Linked DNA regions of Homo sapiens. The protein of the gene in region 1 interacts with the protein of each later gene in a biochemical or structural test. Each region holds a gene or a part of one and is shown in the gene's direction. Other genes may lie near its edges. The genes, in order: MECR and PPARA.

Evidence for each region.
Region 2: the proteins of MECR (region 1) and PPARA form a complex in vitro, tested with the Homo sapiens proteins (one study listed by BioGRID).

Annotation. Positions count from the first base shown.
Region 1 is NC_000001.11:29,192,935-29,201,439, reverse strand, and holds part of MECR (enoyl-[acyl-carrier-protein] reductase, mitochondrial), read left to right. Parts: coding exon of another isoform or gene 1-66; intron 67-850; coding exon 851-924; exon of another isoform or gene 925-1,030; intron 1,031-5,181; coding exon 5,182-5,242; intron 5,243-5,397; coding exon of another isoform or gene 5,398-5,426; coding exon 5,427-5,499; intron 5,500-7,260; coding exon 7,261-7,418; 3' UTR 7,419-8,505. UniProt on the Homo sapiens protein: Catalyzes the NADPH-dependent reduction of trans-2-enoyl thioesters in mitochondrial fatty acid synthesis (fatty acid synthesis type II).
Region 2 is NC_000022.11:46,237,514-46,254,415, forward strand, and holds the end of PPARA (peroxisome proliferator-activated receptor alpha), read left to right. Parts: 3' UTR 1-6,242; downstream 6,243-16,902. Other genes in the region: CDPF1 (cysteine-rich DPF motif domain-containing protein 1), read right to left, coding at 7,301-7,725, 9,593-9,708, 10,659-10,771. UniProt on the Homo sapiens protein: Ligand-activated transcription factor. Key regulator of lipid metabolism. Activated by the endogenous ligand 1-palmitoyl-2-oleoyl-sn-glycerol-3-phosphocholine (16:0/18:1-GPC). Activated by oleylethanolamide, a naturally occurring lipid that regulates satiety.

The DNA of each region.
Region 1 (8,505 bases):
TGGCCTCAGTCTCTCCGAACTCAAAGCCTCTTAACCTTCCAGAACCTCCACCCCACAACATGCCTAGTAAGTGACCAGACCCTCAGCCCCTTTTCACTGAACCATCTGGAGGAACCAAAGACACACACTCAAGAGCATGCGCTTCTTGCGAACATTTCTGAAGCAGTAGATCAGCATATATAATATCAGCTGAGTCAAAGAACTGAAAAGGGGGGCACACAGGGAGCTGAAACCCACCAAACTGCATGCAGATGCCCTTTGCCTATTCTTTCCCAGAGAAGATGAGTTCTGCCAGGTCCTAAAATGGACAACAGGATTAAGTTGCTACAGAAAAGGCCCTTCTTGGCTGGATGAGGTGACTCATGCCTGTAATCCCAGCACTTCGGGAGGCCAAGGCAGGCGGATTGCTTGAGTCTGAGAGTTTGAGACTAGCCTGAGCAACATAGTGAGACCTCTGTCTCTACAAAAAAACATTTTTTTTTAATTATCTGGTCATCATGATACTCATCTGCAGTCCCAGCTACTTGGGAGGCTGAGGTGGGAGGATTGCTTGAGCCCAGGAGGGTAAGGTAGCAGTGAGCCATGATTGCACCACTGCACTCCAGCCTGGGTAACAGAGCGAGACCCTGTCTTAGAAAGAAAAAGAAAAAAGAAAGAAAAGACACTTCCTAAGCAGAGAAAAAGGTGAGTTCAAAGGCATAAACACACACACATATACATAAGTACGTGCACGCAAACAAAGGCATAAACATCTCATTTACTCCCTCCTTTTAACACAGCACTTGGGCAAGCTTCAGACCCCATATGTAGAGCGGGGATGCTCCCTCACTGCACTTTTGTTGTTTTCCAGGACATGCCCCAGCCACGGCTTGCTCTCAACTGTGTTGGTGGGAAAAGCTCCACAGAGCTGCTGCGGCAGTTAGCGTAAGTCCCTTGGGCCTGCAGGTCCAGCTCGCCAGAGCTCTCCAGGTCTTTAGCTGGGAGGACCATCAAGTGACTGAGTCCCATCGCCAGTTCGAGCCAAGTCCAGGTCAGCACAATGTTGAGTGGAAACTAGGACCAAAGTCATCCAGCTATTTGGGCACTGGTTTCTCAGCCTTCCCCTTTGCAGATGACCAAAATTTTGGCCTATCCAGCTTTATTTTTCCAAGGGACCCCAGAAGTAGACTGCTAAGCTGCCTGCCATAGAGGAATAGTCAAGGATTTATAACCTAGGGATGTCTGAAAAAGTCACTTAGTCCTAACTTATTTAACCTTTCAAAATTTGTATTAGCTTTTAAAATAGATTCTAATTTTAAAGGTAACATTATGCTTATTACAAAACATTTTGAAAACATGTAAAAGTGCAAAGGAAAACTTAAGCATAAAAGTTTCCTGTTGGCTGGGCACTGTGGCTCATGCCTATAATCCCAGTAATTTGGGAGGCCAAGGAGGAAGCATCACTTGAGGCCAGGAGTTCGAGACCAGCCTGGGTAACATAGTGAGACCCCATCACTACAAAAAAAAAAATTAATTTTTTTTTTAAGTTACCTGGCCAGGCATAGTGGTTCATGCTTGTAATCCCAACAAGACAGGCAGATCACTTGAGGCCAGGAGTTTAAGACCAGCCTGGCCAACATGGCAAAACTCCATCTCTACTAAAAATACAAAAAGACTAGCCAGGTGTGGTGGCAGGCACCTGTAATCCCAGCTACTTGGGAGGCTGAGTCACGAGAATCATTTGAATCCAGGAGGTGGAGGTTGCAGTGAGCCGAGATCACACCACTCTACTCCAGCCTGGGTGACAAAGGGAGATTCCATCTCAAAAAAGAAAAAAAAAAGTTACCTATCACCCCACTACCAAGGGGGATAAGCCCTGTTGACAATATTAATGCATGTCCTTCCATTCTTCTTTCCCTTAATATAAGCTTCTAGGCCGGGCGCAGTGGCTCAAGCCTATAATCCCAGCACTTTGGGAGGCTGAGGCGGGCAGATCACGAGATCAGGAGATCGAGACCATCCTGGCTAACACGGTGAAACCCCGTGTCTACTAAAAATACAAAAAATTAGCCAGGTGTGGTGGCGGGCACCTGTAGTCCCAGCTGCTCAGGAGTCTGAGGCAGGAGAATGGCGTGAACCCCGGAGGCAGAGCTTGCGGTGGGCCGAGATTGCGCCACTGCACTCCAGCCTGGGCGACAGAGGGAGACTCCGTCTCAAAAAATAAAAATAAAAGCTTCTTGAGCTAGAGTGTGTGTAAAAAGACACTTCCTAATTAAAGCAGGAACCCCCTCAATAGTACGGATTCAGCTAGCGCATACTTGCTGAGCACTTACTAGCTACCAGGTACAGAGAGGGCTGCGACACTGATGTGCCCTCTGAGAATTCACAGGCTTGATGAGCAGGTGAGTCACGTGGCCAGAGCACTGTGGTGAGTATTCACCATGCACCAGACTGTGTGCAGCGCTTGACTTACCCTTCCCACAACCACCTAGACAGGGGGTGCAGTTCTAACCTCTGTTTTATACTTTTAAACAATGAGGCCCAGGCCGGGCGCAGTGGCTCATGCCTGTAAACCTAGCACTTTGGGAGGCCGAGGCAAGTGGATCACCTGAGGTCAAAAATTCGAGACCATCCTGGCCAACATGGTGAAACCTCGTCTCTACTAAAAATACAAAAATTAGCCAGGCATGGTCGTGGGTGCCTGTAATCCCAGCTACTTGGGAGGCTAAGGCAGGAGAATTGCTTGAACCCAGGAGGTAGAGGTTGCAGTGAGCCAAGATCGTGCCATTGCACTCCAGCCTGGGCTTCAGAGAAACAGTGTGTCTCAAAAACAAACAAACAAAAAAAAACAAGGCCCAAAGAGGTCAAGTACCTGTCCCAAAGTCTAGGCAGCAGGAGAGCCAGGCTTGACCCCACATTTGAGCACACCGCTTCAGCCCTATACCTGACAGACAACCCCTGCGGCAGACCTCAATCCCAATGTCATTGCAGGGGGAAGCGTTGTTACGGGTGTAGGCACTGGAGCCAGAATGGCTGGGTTCAAGCCCCTGCTCTGTGACTTACTAGCTGTGGGCCTGTGGAAAGTTAGGCAATACGTGAAAAACAATCCAGGCCTCCGTCTCTTCATCTGTAAAATGGGGGTTATATAAACCCTCTGCCTCTGAAGGGTGGTCTAACACGGGTCCCCAGCCCCCAGGCCGCAGACCAGTACCAGTTCGTGGCCTGTTAGGAACCAGGTCACGCAGCAGGAGGTGAGCGGTGGGTGAGCGAGCATGGCCACCTGAGCTCCGCCTCCTGACAGATCAGTGGCAGCATTCGATTCTCATGGGCATGTGAACCCTATTGTGAAGCACGCAGGGAAGGGATCTAGGTCCCATGCTCCTTATGAGAATCTAATGCCTGAGAATCTGAGGCGGAACAGTTTCATCCCAAAACCATCTCCCCCACTCCAGTCCATGGAAAAATTGTCTTCCATGAAACCGGTCCTGGTGCCAACAAGGTTAGGGACCGCTGGTCTAAAGGACACTGGGCGATATACAAATTGCTGTACAAATGACGGATGGACTTCAGCTTTCTCATCTCTAAAACAAGGTTGTTACGAGGATTCCCTGAGGCAGTGCATGCAAAATGCTTAGAACTGTGCCTGGCACATAGTAGAAGCCTGGTAAGTGTCAGCTAGTCTGATTAGATGAAGTGCAGCAGGGATACAGAAGAGAGAGGGCTTGGCTCCCAGGAGCTACTTTCTACAGCAGGTGGCAGTCAAGGGGCACTTAAGACCAAACTACCCAGCAGCCTCAGGGACAGAAGTACCTGCCCTAGGACAGCAGCTCCTTCCATTTGGTAGTTTTGAAAGTCTACCTTGTGTTGTCCCCAAATGTGCCTGAGGTCATCCTTAATCAACAGACTCCTAGAAGAGCCAGGGAGTGGGGAGGTGAACATAGGTTAAGTCAAGTGAACTCCAGGCTTATTCACTTAAAAATTATGTTAGCCTCAATCCTGTATGTCAGCTGACATGGGGGTGTGGGTGTCAGACAGCAGGTACTGAGAAGGCACCTCCTGCAGTGAGAAGATGCTTGTCATTGTTCCCTGCACCGTCCACATCATTCCTTATCTGTAGAGCTGTTTCCTCACGTTGATTCTTAGAATGAGCACTGGCAGATGAAGAGATGAGGTCTGGGCCATTTTCACTGCATCACCCTAGGTCGGACACCTGTAAGTGAGAGCAGAGCCAAGGCTGAACTCAGGCCTCGAGCTCATCTGGGGAGAGCATGTTTCTTTTCAGCACTTAATCAAAGCCTGACTGGATGGGTTAGATCAGTGGATTCCCAATCCTGGCTAAACATACAAGTCATCCAGAGCGGGTGTGTGTGTGTGTTTAATATACATTCTCGTCTCCTGATTCATTGAGTCTGGGATTGGACCTAGGAATCTGGTTTCTTGGTTGTTTTGTTTTGTGTTGAGATGGTCTCACTGTGTTGCCTAGGCTGGAATGCAGCAGTGCAATCTCAGCTCACTGCAGCCTCAACCTCCCAGGCTCAAGTGATCTTCCCACCTCAGCCTCCTGAGTGGGGCCACAGGCATGTATCACCGTGCCCAGCTAATTTTTTTTTATTATTATTTATAGACACAGGGTCTCACTATGTTGCCCAGGCTGGTCTCAAACTCCTGGGCTCAGGCAATCCTCTCACCTTGGCCTCCCAAAGTGCTGGTATTACAGGTGTGAGCTGCCATCCCCAGCATGCATTTATTTATTCATTCATTCATTTATTTTCTGAGACAGGGTCTCACTCTGTTGCCCAGACTGGAGTGCAGTAGTGCGATCAGGGCTCACTGCAACCTCAATTTCATGGCCTCAGGTGATTCTCCCACCTCAGCCTCCTGAGAAGCTGGGACTACAGGCATGCCGCCTTGCCCAGCTAATTTTCTGTACTTTTTTTGTAGAGATGGGGTCTCCTTTTGTTGCCCAAGCTGGTCTTGAACTCCTGGGCTCAAGTGATCCACCTGCCTCAGCCTCCCAAAGTGCTGGGATTATAGGCATGAGCCACTGCTCCCAGCTGGAATCTGTATTTTTCAACCTTTCCCAGAGATTCTGAGAGCAGGGTTTATAAAGGAACCAGGGTTGGAGTAGAAGCGCCATGGCAGGTTCAGGAAGGGCTCTGTCTCTGCCTTGCATCCACTCTTTGTTCTCTTTGGACTTTTCAGGCGTGGAGGAACCATGGTAACCTATGGGGGGATGGCCAAGCAGCCCGTCGTAGCCTCTGTGGTAAGCTGGGTGCAGAGGGAGGCATGCCTGGAGCCGGGCCAGACACCTCAGCCAGGCCACATCCCCTGGCACGACAGCTGTCTAAGCTTAGGCAATGCCCCGTTCCTGGAGGGGAGTCTGTACCCTTAAGCGGTACCTGAAGTTCTTGCCCTCAGAGCCCAGCATGTCCTTCCTGTGTCTGCAGAGCCTGCTCATTTTTAAGGATCTCAAACTTCGAGGCTTTTGGTTGTCCCAGTGGAAGAAGGATCACAGTCCAGGTGAGTGCATGGCCCAGTGCCAAGAGTCACAGATGAGGGCAGTGCCTAAAAATGGCAGCAGAAATGACCAGCTATTCTGAGCCCTGGAGGGGTGATTGGGTCCCCAGCCCCACAGAAGGATCAAAGAGAATAGCCTTAGTCCAGCTACAGTCAGCAAACAGTTATTGGACTAAACTGGGTTAGTCTTAGGGGCGCAGAACAAGACAGACACTGCCCCCGTCCTGAAGAGCTGACAGTGGGGAAAGATGGATAGCCAAACAGAGAGAATAGACTCTGGAGCCAGCCTGCCTGGGTTCAAATTCTGCTTCCACACTACTGGATAGAGGTTCTGCCTAGCCAGCAGTGGGACCTTGAGCAAGTTACTTAATCTCTGCCTCAGTTTAAATGTCCTAAGTTTAAACTCTTGTTAGCCGTGTTTGACAGAGGAGGAAATTGAGGTTCAGAGTGGTTAAGTAGCGTGCCCAAAGTCACCTCCCTGCAGGGAGGTATGAGGCACGATGTAAACAGATCATCTCCCTGTTCATCTCCTGGAGGACTGGCTCCCCAGAGCGGGATCTCCAAACTCAGGACAAAGAATAACATGGAGTTATCCAAGTGAAGGGGAGGAAGGTGGTGGCATGAAGGCAGTGTTTCAGGCAGAAAATATCGAAAATCACACGTGCAACTAGGCACTGAAGCGGTTCCGAGCGACCTGGAGCACTAGATCTGAGCTGGGGCTGGAAAATTGGGTGAGTGGGTTGTGACCAGGTTACAGAGGCCTTATAAACCTGATTAAGGCATTCAGACTCATGGGTTTTTTTGCTGTTTTGGGGGGTTATTTTTTTTGAAACAAGGTATCGCTCTGTTGCCCTGGCTGGAGTGCAGTGGTGTGGTCACAGATCACTACAGACTCAACCTCCTCGGTTCAGGTGATCCTCCCACCTCAGCCTCCCAAGTAGCTAGGACCACAGGCACACGCCACCACATCCAGCTAGTTTTTGTATTTTTAGTAGAAATGGGGTTTCATCATGTTGCCCAGGCTGGTCTCAAACTCCTGGGCTCAAGTGATCCACCCACCTCAGCCTCCAAGAGTGCTGGGATTACAGGCGTGAGGCACCACACCCAGACAAGACTCACGCTTAAAGGCAACTGAGGAGCCAGTATAGATGACTAGATTTGAAGGCTGAATGAATTTATGTCTATGGAAAAACACTTCTCAGCCGAGGCCTTCACTTCTCAACTTCCTGTACCATATAGGGTCCTTCGCAGGAGGCAGGCCCAGGAAGGGGATGTTGGTGGCGTCCGGTCGTGGGGTTCTAAGGGAGTCCTGGGCTCTCAGGGAGAGCTCCATTTCCTGAGCAGAGCTCAACTGTTCCACATCACTTGGCGTGCCAGGCATACCCACTCCCTCTCTGGGCCTCCTCTGGCCTCCCTGCCTCCGCCATCCTTTTCCTCCCACCATTCAGTGCTCCTGTCTCCACTGTGGCCAGGTTCTGTGAGTCTGTGCCATCTTAGCCACCACTCTGAAGGGTGGTCTCTGCCTGTCTGCCCCTCAGCCCCTAGAGCCGCTCCTATGTTCCCCTCTCCCCACCTTGACCTCACTGTCCTAAAGACAGGCAGGGACCAGGCTGCCTCCACAGCCACCCTATCCTTGGCACAGCCAGGACTCTCAAGGCTTTATTGGAGCTTGGTGCCAGCTCCTGCCCATAGGGCAGCCCCGTGCCACATCTCACCAAGCCCCAGCTGCTGTTCTCTTGTCTGATTTCCTCCAACCTCCCGCAGACCAGTTCAAGGAGCTGATCCTCACACTGTGCGATCTCATCCGCCGAGGCCAGCTCACAGCCCCTGCCTGCTCCCAGGTCCCGCTGCAGGACTACCAGTCTGCCTTGGAAGCCTCCATGAAGCCCTTCATATCTTCAAAGCAGATTCTCACCATGTGATCATCCCAAAAGAGCTGGAGTGACATGGGAGGGGAGGCGGATCTGAGGGGCTGGGTGCAGGCCCCTCAGTTGGGGCTCCCACCTTCCCCAGACTACTGTTCTCCTCACTGCCTCTTCCTATTAGGAGGATGGTGAAGCCAGCCACGGTTTTCCCCAGGGCCAGCCTTAAGGTATCTAATAAAGTCTGAACTCTCCCTTCCAAAAAGTAGAAGTCATCCCTGTCGAGAAGGACCAACACTGTGCACTGGTCAGCTCACAGCACCAAGAGGCCCCCTTCCTGCTTTTCTGTCATGTGTTCCCCCAGTAATCATTTTCTGACCACCCTGAAAGCAAAGCCTGGGTGGGTACTGGCAGTGCAAAGGCCAGTAGGCCACCATCCCTGGCCCCAAGCTGCACAAGCCCACAGACGAGGGTCCTGTAGAACAAACGCTTTGATGTGCTTCTCAGGTAGCCTGCGGCCCAGTCCAGGGCTTGGGGAGGATCAGCTGCATGGAAGAGTGAATGCCAGGCTGAGGTCATCAGGGCCCTGAGGAACTTGGACGTGGGGTCTTCACTCTCATGGAACTGCCCTTCTAACTGGAGACATAGACAATATACCAGTGGTTCTCAACCAGAGGCAATTTTACCCCCAGGAGACATTTGACAATGTCTGGGGATATTTCTGGCTATCACAGCTTATGAAGGAGGTTGCTACTGGCATCTAGCAGGCAGAGTGAGTGCTGCTGTTAAACCCACCACAGGACACAGAACAGTCTACTGCAACAAAGAATTACCCAAGGCCTGGCGCGGTGGCTCACACCTGTAATCCCAGCACTTTGGGAAGCCAAGGCAAGCGGATCACTTGAGCCCAGGAGTTCAAGGTCAACCTAGGTAACGTGGTGAAACACCATCTCTACAAAAAATACAAACATTAGCCAGGTATGGTGCTGTGCACCTGTAGTCCCAGCTACTCGGGAGGTTGAGGTGGGAGGATCACCTGAGCCTGGGAGGTCTAGACTGCAGTGAGCCATGATCATGCCACTGCATTCCAGCCTAGGCAACAGAGCAAGACCCTATATCAAAAAAAAAAAAAAAATCTAGCCCCAAA
Region 2 (16,902 bases), on another chromosome or scaffold:
CTTGAACCCAGGAGGTCGAGGCTGCAGTGAGCTGTGATCTCACCACTGCATTCCAGCCTGGGTGACAGAGTTAGATTCCACCCTCTCCCACCCCGGCAAAAAAAAAAAAAAAAGATGCAATCAAAGGGGCTGTTGGCCAGCAATGGCAGCAGCAGCGGCGGGCAGTCTGCCCAAGTGTCTTAGGAACCAAAAGCAAATAAAAGTGTTTCCATATATGCCACCAGCCAAGTGGCCATCCTAATTCAGAAAGAAGCTAGCCTTTGAGTGTCTGTCATGGTGCATCCGTTTCAGTATTATTTCCTAAAATGAGAAGCCCCTGTGTCAACAAGATCCAGGGGCTGGAGCCCAATGCCAAGCCTGTGTTGTCCCCAGCGACCCTGCAGCTGCTCGCTCTGATGTACCCTGTGCCATTCAAGGAGATGTGGTCCAGGAAAGTGAGCCTCATGGTTTTCAGAGAAGTCATTGTTCTGTTTACATTTTCATAAAACCTGTTTAAAATAGCTCCCCGTCTCAGGCTTTCAGCAGTAACAGTGAGCTGACTGGCAAGTTCGATGTTAGCTCCCGGGACACTCAGCAGCGATGGTGAGCATTTTGGTTTCCTTAAGGCCCAGCAAGACTTCCAGGGACATCTCTGGTGAAGCCAGAATGGAGACACCCGTGACCTCAGGCTGAAAGTCACTCGACATTGGTCTCTTGTGTTGATAGGGAAGGAAATCAGGCATTCCTATTTCTTTAAATAACAAAACCACTAATTGCCACTCAATGCTGGAATATTTTGGGTCACCTAATCATAGATTTCTCAGGGCATCAATACTCAAATATAGGCTGATTATGCCCCAGTTCAAATGGGAACTATTAACAGAGTGCATTTCTTGCTTGCTGGGTTTCAACAGACATCAGCCAAAAGAACAAAAGAGATGTCAGGACAGATTCCAGGAGTGTCGGAGCACATGTGTGGCACCCGCTCCCTCTGGCAGCGAATGTAGGAAGTCGCCAAATTTACCCACTCTTCAACAAGTCATTGTTTAAACACGGTTTTTCATTTTCTCAACTTTTAATAGCAAAAAGTGCCAAAGTCCTCAGAGACCTAACAGCCTTGGTCTACCGTGCTGACCAGGGTGAAGGCACGGCGAGGGACTCCTCCCAGACGTGCCTCTTGTGTGCCAGCTGGCTGTGGCTCGGGAGCAGACGCAGGCCTCTCCATTGTCCAGGGGAGCCTGGCGGCGCATCCCTCCTCTCCCACCTCCTGGCACTTCCAGCTGGGTGTCCCACATGTTGGATTCCGTCCCCACCACACTTCCAGAGACCGGAGAACTGTGCAGGGCCTAAGGCCGTTTGGATGAATTGTCAAAACAAGATGCTTCCAGTTACAGCGGCAGGAGCGGGACTGGGAGCACGGGCTGACGGCTGCTGGTGCCTTTCTTCCCACCTCGCTTGCCTGTTTCCGCTTGACCCTTCCTCCAGCTCCGATGAGAAGAGTATAAAGCATCTTCCTAACGGGTGTGTTTGCTATACGAACATAATGGACGTGAAGTGGGGCAGAAACCCAGAACTCAGCATTCAAGGATGCCCAGGAGAGCTGTCCCTGTTTTAAAGAGCTGTGTTTTGTTTTGTTTCGCATTTAGAGAGCAGACAAGGCACCCTTCTGCTGCGCTGATACGTTTCTTACACTGGGCCATTTTAGACCCCCAGGGAAACAGCCTTCCTGGAGCGTTGTCTGGAGGTTCCAGGGACAGGGCAGCCTCCCAGAGCCGAGCAAGAGCTCAAGGTACAAATGAGAGATTTGCTATACCGTGAGAAGTCAACAACTTAGCCACCACTTCCCCGCAATGGACCATGTAACAAATACCTCAGCAGGCCCTGCAAAAGGCCATGCTAGAGCTGAGGCGCACAGCCTGTGGCCTCTGTAGTTAGGGCAGGTGGGATGGAGACTCCTTGAGTGCACACACCTGAGCCTGCCCACACACAGGGGAGCAGCATCTCGTATGACGTCTGGAAGGAACTTCGGTTGTGTAAAGGGAGCCTTGAAGATACGTGCAAAAGGTGCTACCCCAATTTGGTGAAACTGACATTGGGCACGTCTTGGGCTTAGGAGAAGCGGCCGATGGTCCCGGCCTGCAGTGACAAACCCCCCTCCCCGCACCGCCCCCAGCACCCCCTCTCCTCTTCACCTCTTCCTGCTGGCCACGAGGAAGCCACTTCCTCAGAGAGACCCTACCAGATGCGGATGGAAACAGATGCACCAAAGCAAGCCCTGATGAAACCGCGACTTCCTAAGGTCTGTCTCCTCTGAACTTGCACCTGGGCCTCTCTGTGTTTGGTTCCAAGCACTTCCCACCTCAAACTCCCATTTTCAAACCACTGTATCTCTGCGCACATCTGCTACTTACCAGCCGCATACATGATGGAGGGTTTTTTGGTCCTGATCCAGTGGCCACACCTGTCTTTGAAATGTCTCACTGAACTCCAGTTTTAAAATAGATTCATTGCTTCAACACAGCAAGCCCAATGCACCCAGCTAAGACTGGCTTGACCGACAGCCTGGCCTTTGGTGGGGGGCTTCCTGGGGCCTGGGGAAAGCTGGCCACCTTCAACAGCTGGTACCTCTTCAACAGTGTGGCCTTTCAAAATGCAGATGCCACCAGGAGAACATGCCCACAGCTCACCACCTATGGATGCCATGGCTCTGGGCAGCTTTCAAAGCAGGTTCCTGTGGTCTCCTCAGCTGTTTGAGGGGGTAACAGCAAATCAGCCTCCATTTTAAAATGAAAACACCAGCCTCCAGATGTAGGGCCTGCTGGGTGTTGCTAGCCGCTGGTCCCCAGGCACGGTGCACTTTCTCCACCTCCTGCAGCCTCCCTGTTGTTTCTAGACTCTTGCACCTGGTGAGTGCAAGGATAGGTGACCCAGGGGCCTGCAGCCTTGTCCTCAGCTCCCATCTCCTGGACTGCCAGCCTCACCCTCTGCAGTTAGCATGGTTGGCCTGATGCAGGGATCCCGAGGGATTACTTTTTAGACCTTCTTTCACATTCAGAAAAGTAGTATAGATTCAGGAGAGGCAAGAAAATTATGCTGTCCATAGAAGTCACCCATGAAGACTGATGCCACCACCTGAAGGCTCATGATTGTTAAAAATGTCCACGGGAACCTCTCGTCCACAGGAGGTTTGTCTCAACACTTCCCATTTTTACGGCATTGGCATTGCCAAGCATGGGGAAGTATCTGCTCTTCTCATGTTAAAAGTGGCCCAGCTTTTCTTAACTCAGTCCAAGCTGACTTGTTTAGCTGCACTGGAATTTCTTACCAACCAAATATTTGCATCGAGCAAAGGGGGCTGTGTGCACCTCCCTAATGGCAGCGATGATGGCTGCTGTCATTCAAGCCCATCTTCAGACGTCACAGTCTGGAAGTGAAATGTCCACAAACATCTGTGGCAGAAAAGGCTATACGGACCACCCAGTTGTGCTGCAGCTTTACAGAGCAAGGAAGGGTTGTGGCAAATAAATGATTAACCTGCCTCGACTGTGCTGAGGGCAACAAAGGCCATCTCACCAAAGGATTATTCGATGCCATTAAATCATCCCGTGACCTTCCTGCTTCCGAGTCCATGGCCTTTGCCCAGGGCATGTACTCCCCTGAGAGGCCTTCTGCCTAGAAAGATCTATGACTGGGTTCCAAAGTTGAGGCCTAGGTTTTTGCTGGGATTTAGATATTTTCAGGCACCATTTTGACAGCATTCAGGAAAACGGTTATTGACCCCATAGACTAGGGTAAGAATAAAGGCAATAAATTTGGTCTGACTCAGAATATAGGAGATCCATATATTTCTCTGGAAACCACAGTGTACACTAAAATGTGAAATTGAAGGTTTTGTTAAAAAGAAAAAGATAATGAGCTTCATGCTTTGTTTAATTACATAATGATTTCCATTACGCTATTTCTGTGAAATGCAGCAGGTTCTTAAACGTTATTTCAGTGGCATGGGCTGGAAGCTTATCACAAAAAGCCATGTGTGTGGCCTTATCAGAACAGAAAGAGACAGGCTGGTGCCCAAGGCTGCTGCCTGCTCCACCTTTTGCCAGCTCTGGACATCTGAGGACGTCCCGGCAGATCTGGAATGGGGCCCTCAACTGACCATTTGCTTCTCAGAATTTCAGTTTGAGACATGAGAGGTATAATCAGTTACTTTTCTCCCCCCAGAGAAACCCTTTTGTGAGGGGAGAGGAGCTATGGTATGTGGTTCAGCTGAAACACATACAACTGCATCCTTTTGGAGTCCTTTGCCAACAAAAACAGACCAACAGACCAGATGGTGTCCATGTTCAATATCATGTCTTGATGGACGCAGCTGATGACCTCAAATACTTGAGTGGTCTCATGGCTGTTAGATGGATTATTTGAAAAAAAAAAAAAAAAAAGAGAGAAAAAATAATTGATTTTTACATCAGAGATAGCAAACTAAGACCTGGGGAGGGGGGTCAGCTTTTATTTTATTTTATTTTTTTTAAGTTTGCTAGTTGGGTCAAATGTGAGGAGGAGGGAGTCTACCTGCCACCTCTTCTCTTGCCCCTCTTCTGCCCACACATCCAGCATCCAAAATCCATTCATTTAATGAATTGATAAAGTGCCGTGCAAACTGGTGCACAAACAGGCCCCCAGTCCACGCAGCCTGGCTCCTAGGAAAAGTGGTGACCGGGCGTGGGGGGGCATGCCGCAGCCCTGGGACACAGTCGGGCACCTTCCCCGGACCCCCAGGCCTTGGCTGTGCCTCAAGTCAGAGAGGGTCAGCCTTCAGGCCCCGGAGACGAGTGACTGGCCGATCATTTCACAATAAAATCACTCACTTTTGGCAACTTCACTTTTTTTAAGGCACAGTCAGTTCCTTTTCTCATGTACCTCACAAAAGATGAAGACCATGTAGTACTCTTTTTGGTAAAGTTACAGTGTTCATGTTAAATATCACTTTTTTCTACATTGTGTGGTAAAAAGAACTACGTTAATAGCTATATCTTAAATACTGTGATTTGACTTTTTGAAAAATATCCTAATACAAATATTTTACTAACTTACAATCACTCATTTAATAAGAAACATTTGGATTCTTTTGAAATCAGTGTTAATTGACTCATATTCTTAAAAGCCTGGCTCTTGACCCTATTGGAAACACAAAGGAAGCTGAAATCAAACATCTAAAATACACTGCGTACACGTGTGCGTGCACACACACACACACACACACACACACACAGCTCTTCATTTCTCCTGAGCCATGCAGAATTTACTTTCAATGTGGAAATCTGTTCCCTTTACCACACTGTATATGCACAGAGCACAAGAGAGGCTATCTCTAGTCACTTCCACCAGCGAGGCCTTAGACTCCGTATTAGAGGCCACCGATTTCATACAACAGTGTTTCGCTAAAGACCCTTCACTATTCTTGTTTAGTAAATAGCTGTCTGCTCTTCAGGGAACTGTTACCTATGGGTTATTACCAAAGAACGCTGGCAATTGGAAATGTCCTGATGGAAATTCTTTGCACGTGCCGGTTCTCTGGCATCCTCCAGGTGGCCCAACCCAAAGCAGAAAGCAGAAACCACAGACCCCGTGAGTCTCCCCATACCTTGTTTCCAATAACTTGGCAAAACTTCTTGGTGCATATTGGTTACACCCTCTGGGATTCATAATGCCATTAGGCTAAAACCCTAAGAGAGAGGGTTGACAGAAACACACGCGAGAATGAGGCAGATCCCAGAGCAAGGACTGGGCCCAGACTCTCCACATGTGCTCTACTAGTGAGTGCCTTATACTCTCAGTATTTTGGGGCTTACAGCTTCTTATTTGTGCTAAAAAGGTGCAGTTCCAAAGTAGGAACTGCCACACAGGCCCCAGCATCCTCTCTCCAACTTCATACCTCTCTCCTGGTGGGGGGAGCGGGCATCCAGGACCTCCGGAATCAAGGATGTGCAGAGAAGAGCGAAAGTAATTTTTCTAGTCACATGAACTGATTGGTTCCAGGCAATTAGAAAATGGCTATAAAATAACCTTAATTTTAAAAAAAAATCTTGGGTCTTCGTTTTCCTATTAGGAGACTGAACTGACCACATGTATTGATTTATATCCTGAATATATGGGAACTTCTGTGTTTGGGATGTCCTACTGTAAGACTGATGAATGTACAGAGTTAATTTCAGGGTACAGTTTTGCCTTAATGGTTTTAAAAAATAAACTATTTTTTAAAATTTTTTGGTGAGTTTTGAGTGATGCTGCGAGATGGACTGTTTGGTCTAAAAGAACCAAGTCCCCAGCTGTGGGGTCCGCCCTCCGCCAGAACAGTCCCTGCGCCCCTCATGGAGGCTGTCTCCACCTGCACAGTCCCTTTTGTGTCCTTCAACATACAGAATGGATCAAGGACAATCTGGCTCCGGAATACGACATCCTTTCGTCTGAAGTCACATACAACGGGAACTTTTAAAGCAGTGAGCATCTTAAAGTCCATCAGTGCACAAGTCAGTAAAAACTCTTTATTCATTCCTTCATGTGACAGTTGGCCTTGAGTAGTTACAAAGACAGAGCAGTTCCTGCCTCTCAGAATTCTAAGCAGACATTCCAGAGCTCACAGATCAGTGTCCCACCAGCTGCTACCCTGGAAGCTTCAGGGAGATGGGGAGCCTGGAGTAGGGGGGTGCTGCAGGAACCCCCGGCAGGCAGTGGGGCCAGGCTTCACAGGCACCCAGGGCTGAGTGCGAGATGGCAGGGGGCAAGCAGGCAAGCAGTGGGATGGTCTTGAGGTGTGGGGTGAGGGCAGGAAGCCCACGGTATTCCTGACTTGGAGTCGAGGGAGACAGAACGGAGGGGCCCGAGCTGAAGACAGAGTCTGAGGGAACTGGAGAGGCTAGAAGCCAGCACTCAGCTTCCCAGGAGACCCCAACTATTGCCGGGCCAAGTGTCCAGGGAGAACGTCGGGTATCCAAATGTTTCAGTGGAAGATTCCTTTTCCAAACATGAGCTGGTTCTTTGGGTTTTTAATTATAAACATAATACATGGTCAAGGTTAAAAACATTTTCCAAGCACCACATAAGGATATGAAATAAAAATTCTATCCCCCTCTAGACCTTCCAGACTGGGTCCAGAAGGAGCTGCTGTCAGTGATTTTCCTTACAGAGAGACCATTGCAGCCACCTACAGTGCACCATGGCCCCGACACAGTGTGGCATCTCCCCCCACACGCACCTGCACGCAGCCTCTTAGGAGCTGCCCTGCTGAAGGAGGTCATCCCTCTCAGTCACATCTGAGCAGCACTCACTCAGGCCTGGGCCCTGAGGGGCATGTGGGGGGACCTGGCCGGGTTCCTGGCTGTGTCTTGTCTGGCATCTGCCTTTGGACTACCCTCTTGCTACAGCTCCCTGGGCCTGTGGCTGCTCCAAGCTGGACTCCAGCTCCCCTGGGCTGCAGTGCTGCTCCCAGTGGTCCAGAAACAAGGCCAGGCATGGCGGCTCCCAGCTCAGCAGCATCCCTGGCGCAGGCTGGCCCAGGAGCTCTGTGCAGGGTGCCGCCCGATGACCTAGCCCCAGTTGCACTCACGTCCGAGAACCGGGCTGGCTGGGGGTCCTCTTTGATGGAGCTTTCCTTTTCTCCAAGTCTTGCCGAATTTCCTGAGGAAAAGCATTGATGTTCTCCCGGACACAAGGGAGGCAGAATCTCTTGGAGTAGAATAAACTGCATTCCTTAAAGAAGTGGACAAGGATGGAGGCTTGAGTATCCTGGGAACATGGTGCAGCTCCTCCCAGGGGCCAGCCCTTCCCACACTTGGGGGGCTGGGCTGGGGCCCCAGCATGCACAGTGTGGGCAGGTGGCCAGAGCTAGACCAGCAAGAGGGAGAGCCAGGCCTGAGGGCCTGGCAGGGTGTCCAGGAGAAAAGCAATGCAGGCCTGGGCTACCCTGGGTGGGAACAGCTGGGATGGGACAGAAAGACTCTGGGGCCTGCTCTGCTCCATCACGGGGCAGTGACAACAATGGAAAGCTGGAGCACAGGCCATGCCCCGAAAATCCCAGAGTCCTCCCGTCCCAGCTATCGCAGCACGAACAGTGGCCACCTGGTGCTGGGAGCGGCAGGGGACAGGAAGGACAGCCCCACAGACCAAAGACGCCATGGACGAGCCAGCTAGTCTGGGCAGGAGGCCAGAACCGTGCAGCCATGTCCGCTCTCCTCTCTCTTACACACTAGAACTCCCGAGATTCATCACGGTGCACAGCACGTGGCTAAGGATGACATTCCCCAGCCCCCTCTGTAACTGGGCATCGCCATGTGACTCAGGCTGGTTAGGGGCGTCAGCAACTGTGTGTGCCACCTCCTGGTCATGCCCTTTGAAGGCATGGACTGTGCTCTCACGTCCCTTCCCGCTGCCTGGGATGCAAATATGATGGTGGGAGCTCCACAGCCACAAGGGACCCAAATAGAGACTCTGCTGAAGACAACAGGGGTGCCCTTCCAGCCAAGGCCACCAGTTCTGGACTCTTACATAGGAGAAAGTAAGTAAATAACTATTTGCTTTACTTAGGCCACTCTTATTTTTGGTGTCTGTCTGTTCTTAAAGCTTAGTGTGCTCGCAAACATAAGGCTGCCCTCCTGCAGTTCTTAGAAAAGACCCTTCGCCATGGAGATCCGCTCACTAACAACCTACTGTTTAAACAAAGAAAGCTGCAGACTTGTGGTACCTGCGTGCGCCCCCCACCCCCGCCACCCCGCTGCTCACGAAGAGCAGCCCAAGGCCAAGGTGTTGCATTCAAGACCTCCACCTCCCCACCTGGCCCACCCACCTTTGCAGTCTTCCTTTCCCAGCTTCTCCTGGACCACCAGCTCCTCCATGAGCCTCAGATACTCCCATGCCACACTGCGGAGGCTCCTCCCACCCTGGCCCATCTCGTCCCCCTGGCTATTGATACAGCTCCCCTTTGTGTGTGTCAACCTGTGGCAGATGCTCAGGGACTTCTCAGACTCTGGGGTCACTCTGAGTACACTGGGCACGCTGTGAAAGCCATGCTGCTCCACTTCCATCCGTCCTTGGGTTTACAGCTACCCAGGTGAACCTGGCCCACCCAGCCTCTCTGAAGCTCAGTTCCCTCATCTATAAAATGGGTGGAATATAATACTGCTTTACCTGACTAAGGGGCAGGACTGAATGAAGCCTCAGCAGTAAAACAGGTCCCAAGCACAGGACCTGGCACACAACAAGTGCTCATGAAAGGACAGTCCCTTCTCCTGGAGATCCCTCCAAGAACATCTAGAAAGTAAGTCACCATCCTGGTGAGAGGGCGCACAAGGACTGTCTGCACTGTTGGTGGGAAGGGGAGGAACCCTGAGGGGCCACTGGGGTGGGTGCAGAGCCACCAATTACCTATTTCCATTCCTACACCAGGCTGAGACCCTCTAACTGACCCTAGCTTGCCCTCTCACCTCTCCCCTTCATCAGCTGAGGGGCCCCATCTATAATGGGGTGAACCCGCTGCTCCCTCTCTCCCAGCCCTCCCTACCCAGGGAGAGCTCCAGGATAACCACAGCAAGGACAGGTGGCCCCAGCCCACGCTGCTTACCCACCGGGCCCACACACACCAGCCTGCTGCACAAACTGCAGCACGAGCCGAGGACCAGGAATCTGTCCTTGTCGGAGGTGAAGGGATCCTTCATGACATAGCTTTCCTCCAGGAGGCTGCAGGAGAGTGAATGCAGCGTCAGAACAGCCCAAATCTCTGCCGTCGGAAAATCAGCCATGACCTATGGCCAGGCAGCAGCAGCCTGCACCTCTGCAGGGCCTGCATACCTGCGTGGGCTCATCAGGGCAGGGGACTAGGCCACCCGTGCTGCAGGGCAGTGACAGAAAGGATCAGCAATTGGGGGCCACACTGGCACTGAAATTGAACCTGCTCTCACCTCTGTAACAGCCATGGTAGAGAGAACCCCTTGTTCTCAGCCAAAAGCAGGGCTGCTGCAACATGGGCCCCCAGACCCTGACTGATTCACCACAGTGGGGGCACAAGGCTGCCACCTGAATACCCCAGGCCTCCCTACACCCCAAGCCACACCCTCACAGCCCCTGGAAGCCAGCTGGCCTCATGCTACACATCAGAATGAGACCCCAGGGTGACATGATGACACTCAGGCTCCTGGTCAGCAGAGGGACGACAGCCAGAAGGAAAAAGCCATGCCCCTGCCACTGCATCCCATGTGAGTAACACACCGGCCAGCTTTCCAACAAAGTGGCATTTGATGAAGGACAAGCTGGAGGTCAAGAGATAAGCCCCCTGACCCACTGGCTCTAATCCAGGTCTGCAGGGGAGACAGGCCTCCCATTAAGAAAGTGTCATGGCAAGGGTGCAGCCCCAAAGGGGGAGGCCACCACAGGTCCCCCAGCTGCTGAGCTGCTCCCCCACAGCTAGAGCAGGTATTGGACTCTGGGCTAGGTGTGGAGGAAGGTTCTGGAAGAGTCAGACCTCAAGCCTTGCCCAGGCCTCCAGAGATTACACCAGAAGCATTCAGAGCCTGGCCAGGGTGGGGTCTAAAGCTCCACACCTGAGACAGTTGTCAGACCTAGGCACACCACCCACCAACCAGCACTGGGCACAGGCCTCCCCGGCACTGGCCCAAAAGGCATGCACTCACACCATCGACTGGGTGTTGGGGGGCTTCTGTCCCACATAGCTGTACGGAGCTGTCAAGGTACAGAGTTCACACTCAAACACTCCCAGAGGACGGCACTCTACATGGGACGCCATCTGCAAGATCAAGAGATGGGGTGTCCCTGGGTCACAGGCTTTCTCAGGAATCCTGCCCCTTTCCCAGCTATGAAGACCCTAACCATATAGTCCTAGCACAGTTTCTTGCCTCCCTACCGTACCCTTTTCTCTATCCCCAGCTGAAACAGGTTTTCACCGGTGCCCAGAGTGACAGGATTTGCTGTCCATATTCCAATGGTTTAAGGTTTTTGTACTGCTAGAGAGAAGGATCCAGACAGGATCAAGCCAGAGCACCCATCTCTTCTTCCAGGTCTGCACCACGGTAAAAGCGTTCCGGTCTCCTGCTCTGCCCCATTCTTTACCACAAGCCCCCAGTGAACGCTGGTGGAGAAGGGCCCAGAGTGGGTGCAAAATCTCCTGTTTCTGCTGCTCCTAGAAGCTCTATGCCCTCACATTAGTCCACACGTGGTGTGGACATTAGAACTGTTTTCTTGGCCAGGCGCAGTGGCTCATGCCTGTAATCCCAGCACTTTGGGAGGCCAAGGCAGGCGGATCACGAGGTCAGGAGATCGAGACCATCTAGCTAACATGGTGAAACCCCGCCTCTACTAAAAATACAAAAAATTAGCCAGGCGTGGTGGCGGGCGCCTATAGTCTCAGCTACATGGGAGTCTGAGGCAGGAGAATGGCGTGAACCCAGGAGACGGAGCTTGCAGTGAGCCGAGATCGCGTCACTGCACTCCAGCCTGGGAGACAGCGAGACTCCATCTCAAAAAACAAACAAACAAAAAAACTGTTTTCTTATCTGCTTGTATGGAACCCCCTTCTCATGTTCATGGTTGGGTCTTGGAGGCCTCTCTTTCCTTAGATTTCTGGCTAAATGGCTGCCATCTGATGGGTTCATCAAAAGTTACAATTTTGCTGATTACCCAGCTCCTTCTTTGACTATGGAATCAAGTACGACATTATCAGCTGGCCCCTAGCTCTTGGCTGTGACCTCCCCTCGCCTGAACTGAGCGTGGTGTATAAAGGCGTATCAAATGCGATGGCTTTCCCCACTGGGTGTCCCCAGATGCAACTCCAGGAAGCATGGGTTACCAGTGACTTTAAAAGTTAAGTCTGGCCCGGTGTGGTTGCTCATACCTGTAATCCCAGCACTCTGGTAGCCAGAGGCGGGCGGATTACCTGAGGTCAGGAGTTCAAGACCAACCTAGCCAACATGGCGAAACCCCATCTCTACTAAAAGTACAAAAATTAGCCGAGCATAGTGGCGGGTGCCTGTAATCCCAGCTACTTAGGAAGCTGAGGCAGGGGAATCACTTGAACCTAGGAGGCGGAGATTGCAGTGAGCCGAGATTGTGCCACTGTACTCCAGCCTGGGCGACAGGGCGAGACTCCTTCTCAAAAAAATAAAAATTAAAATTAAATAAAATAAAATATTAGCCGGGCGTGGGGGCGGGCGCCTCTAATCTCATCTACTCAGGAGACTGAGGTAGGAGAATCGCTTGAGCGGGGGGTTGGGGAGCGGGGGCTGGGGGGGCGGAGGTTGCGGTGAGCCGAGATCGCGCCACTGCATTCCAGCCTGGGCGACAGAGCGAGACTCTGTCTCAAAACAAAAGTTACGATCGATCGCGGGTGTGCGTGAACCTGATCCCGCTTCTCTTCTGCACGCCGGGGCGTCCTAGGCCCCTGCCGAGGCTCCTGGGGGCGGTGCCTGTGAACAGGGACGGCTGAGAGGGTCCGGGGATGCTGGTGGTCCCCGCGAGCCTCCGCCTGCCCTCTCTCGCCCCAGCGCTGCCCGAGGTCAGGGGGGACAGTCCCGTGAGGCCCACACCCCGCTTCTCGGTCCCGTCCCCAAAGCTGAGAGCGGCTGCGCCGACTCCTGGCGCTTGGAACCCAGCAGGCCACGCCGGCGCGGAACTCAGTCCCGGCGAGCGGGAGGCACCCTGAGGCAGCGCAGGGAAGGGCCACAGCACGCTCGCCCCAGTCACTCTGCCACCTCGAACTCACCGCCGCCCTCGTCCCACGGCTCCGCGTCCAAGGCGCCTGAGCGGCCCCGCCCCACCGCGGCCCGGCCAACCCCGGTGCAGCCGCAGACGCAGGCGCGGAGCGGGAGGCGGGACCTCGCGGTGGTTTTCCGCCTCTGCCTTGCTTTTCCGGTCGCCGCGGTCCTCTGCGCGGGATGTGGCTCTGAGCTTCGGGGTAGTCCGCGAGGCTGGGTTCCGTGCTGAGGGGCGTCGCGTCTGGCCGTGCGCTGCGGGAGCGCGCGGGCCTGGCCCGCTGTCCTGGCCGCTGCGAGGCGCTCAGCTTCTTTCTGAGTGTTCCGCCGGGTTCGACAGGGTCGAGGTCGCCGGCGCGAGGCTCCCGGATAGCTGAGGGGCGCGAGGGCGCCTCCAGTCTCCCACCTGCCCTCCCGCGCCGCGGACTAGGCTGCCAGTCTACCCCACCGGGACGTCTGCCCCCGCATGCAGGAGGGGGTGTGTCGGCCCAACGGGGTCTCAGGACCTGTCCCTGCTCCTCCAAAGCCCACGTCGCCTGCGGCGCCCCTCGGGTCTGCGCCGCGTTCTCCTTTAGCCTCCCGGGCCTCTCCGCTGCCCCTCGCCCCCAGGCACCAGCCACACCTGCTTCCTTCTGTTCCCGCCCGTGGCCTCTGACACGCCGTGCCCTGGACCCGAAATGCCCGCCCCACTCCTGGAGCCTCCGGTGTGTGAGAGGCACCTTTCCTTGGGGTCAGGGGCCCGGACTCTGAAGCCGGCCTGGCTTTGCCTGTGGGCCCCGATCCTCCCAGCTCGAGTCCCTCGCCCCAGCCGCCGCGGGCCTTCACCTGTGCTTTGGGGACGACAGGATGGCCACCCTCCTTCCCCCAAAGATTTGAGGGTTTTGCTCCACGCGGGAGAAGGTCTGCCTGTGCCACCAGCCGGCAGCCTTTCACATGCTGTTGCGTTACGGGGCCCTCTGTGACCTTTCCCTAGGCCGAGGGGTGCTTCGTCTCTGTTCCTGAGAGACCAGAATTTATTCTTGGTTTGTCAAGCCACATCTGTAGGAATGTTGCCCAGTTGCAGCAGGCTGGGGTCTGGGACTTGCTCCTTTGGCGAATTGAGAAGTAAGGATATAGAAGGCATTTTAGCACTAATGGAAACCAGAACCACTCTTAGACCTGGGCAAGAGGGGCCCCAGAAATTAGCAAGCGATTAGCAAGCAGCTGGATTTCGATGACCTCCACTGTACTTAGAGCAACGGCATTCGATTCGTTGGATCATTTCAAAGATGACATACTGGGTTGTTTGTTTGTTTCTGGCGGTGTCTAAAGATGGAACATCTTGAAGCATTTTGAATTTGACCTGTGGCTACCCTCAGATACAATGATGGTAACCCCATGAGTGCTGTTAAAGCAATTTGACTTATTGTAGACAGGTTAACACATGAGATGCGTTAAAAGAGTTAAGTGAAATAATAGGCAGCATTCAAAGAGCAAATCGTGGTCTTTGGCAGAAAATAGAGTTAATTTTGTATTTGAGCTGTCCAGTTATTACAATTAGAAAACGTTTTAAAGAATCCAAAAGGATTTAAAATATTGCATAAAGTTTTAGGAGAAAATGGTTTCCAAAAAGCAACTGCATATGAAATAAGCACTAAAATGACATTAAAGTACAATGTAAGAAAATCGGAACTAGAAGCATTTGCTGGAGTCTGAAGAAAAAGATTTATGGATGAATGATTCTGAAACTAACTTCTATAGAGACAATTTTCCGGCGATGGTAGATCAAGGTGTAGATTGTACTGAAGAGAGAGATTCAAACAAAGTGAGTAATCTACCGCAGTTTTCAGTTTTCTTGGTAATACCCCAACAACGTAAAAGAAAAACGTAAGAAATCCTGTATGGATCTAAATGTAAGAAACGATGATAATGGTGAAATAATAACATTATTTTATATAATGAAAATATTGTGTAATATTTTCTGCAATCATAATTTTTCATATGCACCCTTTCTACACTGTTTAAACATGATATCAACAGTCATGATTCAGTTCTACATATAACGCTTTAAGAATTTATTCATAATTCGTTACCACTCAGCAGAGTCAAGTTTCTCCCAATTGAAATAACTAAAAACTATCTGAAAGTATACTGACTCAGGAAAGTTTGTCTAATTTGGCACTACTGTCAAAAGAATGCAATTGCGTGAAAATCTTCATTAGTCATTCTTCTGAAATGAAGACAAGAGAAACATTTATAGAAGAAATAACATAATTTATGGATTATGTGATTATGTATGTCTTTATTACCCATCCAAGCATTAGTGGCCCATCAACATAATACCTAGAGATACACAATAAAAATTAGCTATCTTTAATATTTTGCCAATTTTCAGCTATATTAAAACCATAGTTTTACACATAATTTTGAATTCTGTTTTATGAAGGTGTATTTGTCCAGGTAAGTGGATATAAATATTTTATGTAACAGTTCGTAAGCTTTTAAATATTTAGACATACAGAGATTTGTAGTCCTGCCCTAGGCCCCACAGATGCTAGGGGTGGGCTTGCTGGGAAAAATGCATATATGTTGTGGCAATACTTATAAAATGTTGTATGGATGTAATCTTAAAAGATTATCACAATATCAGATATTGTACATTGTGTATTTAGGTGAAGACTGTGAAAGAAAATCTGAAAATCAGAAGGAATTGAATGCAGATGAAAATCTAGAGCTAAAATATTGCTAATAGCAGCAAAAGGGGGTACTGTGGAAGAATAACTTCTTATGTACCCCACTTCACTGAATATCCTATTCGCCCCGTTCTCCATTTCTGCCAGTAACATGGAAGTCTAAAGGCTTGCATTTTGTTTCTAGTGCTAACTAATGAAATTCCAGAAGCAGGCCTTAAAAATGCAAAGTCTTCATAATTAACAATAAGTGTTGAGATAGTTGAAGGGCATATATCCCCTTCTCTGTACCTACAGCAATTGAACTTTCTCTGCATATAAAACTTGTTTTTATTAAATATTAAATACTACTCTTGAGTATTTAATAAGGGGCTAAATTGAGAACAAAACCAGGAATATCCATCTTCTTGTTCTGTGCAACAGAGACAGTGGGAGGGTATTCGTGACTATAGCCAATTATTCTGGAATAGTCCTACCCTATCCCTGGAAGTATAATGAGAACAAGAGTCTTAAAAGACTCCTTTAGGCTGGGCGCGGTGGCTCATGCCTGTAATCCCAGCACTTTGGGAGGCCGAGGCGGGTGGATCACTTGAGGCCAGGAGTTTGAGACCAGTCTGGCCAACATGGTGAAACCCCATCTCTACTAAAAAAATAGAAAAATTAGCTGGGCGTTGGTGGGAGTGTGCCTGTAGTCCTACCTACTCGGGAGGCTGAGGCACCAGAATTGCTTAGTCCCACCTACCTGGGAGGCTGAGGCACCAGAGTTGCTTGAACCCCGTGGGCAGAGGTTGCAGTGAGCTCAGATCTTCCAGCCTGGGCAACAGAGCAATACTCCATCTCAAAAAAAAAAAAAGACTCCTTTAGAAATTGTTGCTATGGGCCGGGCGCAGTGGCTCACGCTGTAATCCCAGCACTGGGAGGCCAAGGTAAGTGGATCACCTGAGGTCAAGATTTTGAGACCAGCCGGGCCAACATGGTGAAACCCCATCTCTGCTAAAAAAAAAAAAAATGCAAAAAATAGCCGAGCGTGGTGGTGCACACTTGTAGTCTCAGCTACTTGGGAAGCTGAGGCAGGAGAATTGCTTGAACCCAGGAGGCGGAGGTTGTAGTGAGCTGAGATCAAGCCACTGCACTCCAGCCTGGGTGACAGCGAGACTCCATCTCAAAAAAAAAAAAAAGAAAGAAAAAAAAAGAAAAAAGGACACCTCCAACCCAACACACACACAAATTGTTGCTCTGTCCTGTGAAAATGGCCTTCAAAAGAAACCTGAATTTTTGTTACTTGACACCTTGTCCTCCTGATAATGGTATAATTGGCATCTCTTTGTTTCTAAACTGTATAAATACCTGTCATCACTCTAACAGATTAGAAGAAAACCCCTCGTACTCTCTTTCCCAACATGCCTGGAAAAACTCCTGTGACTGCTGGATTTCTCACTTTCACCAAGAAATTGAGATTCTTGTCTCATTTGGCAGGCCCCACAGCAGCTGTCCCTGGTCGT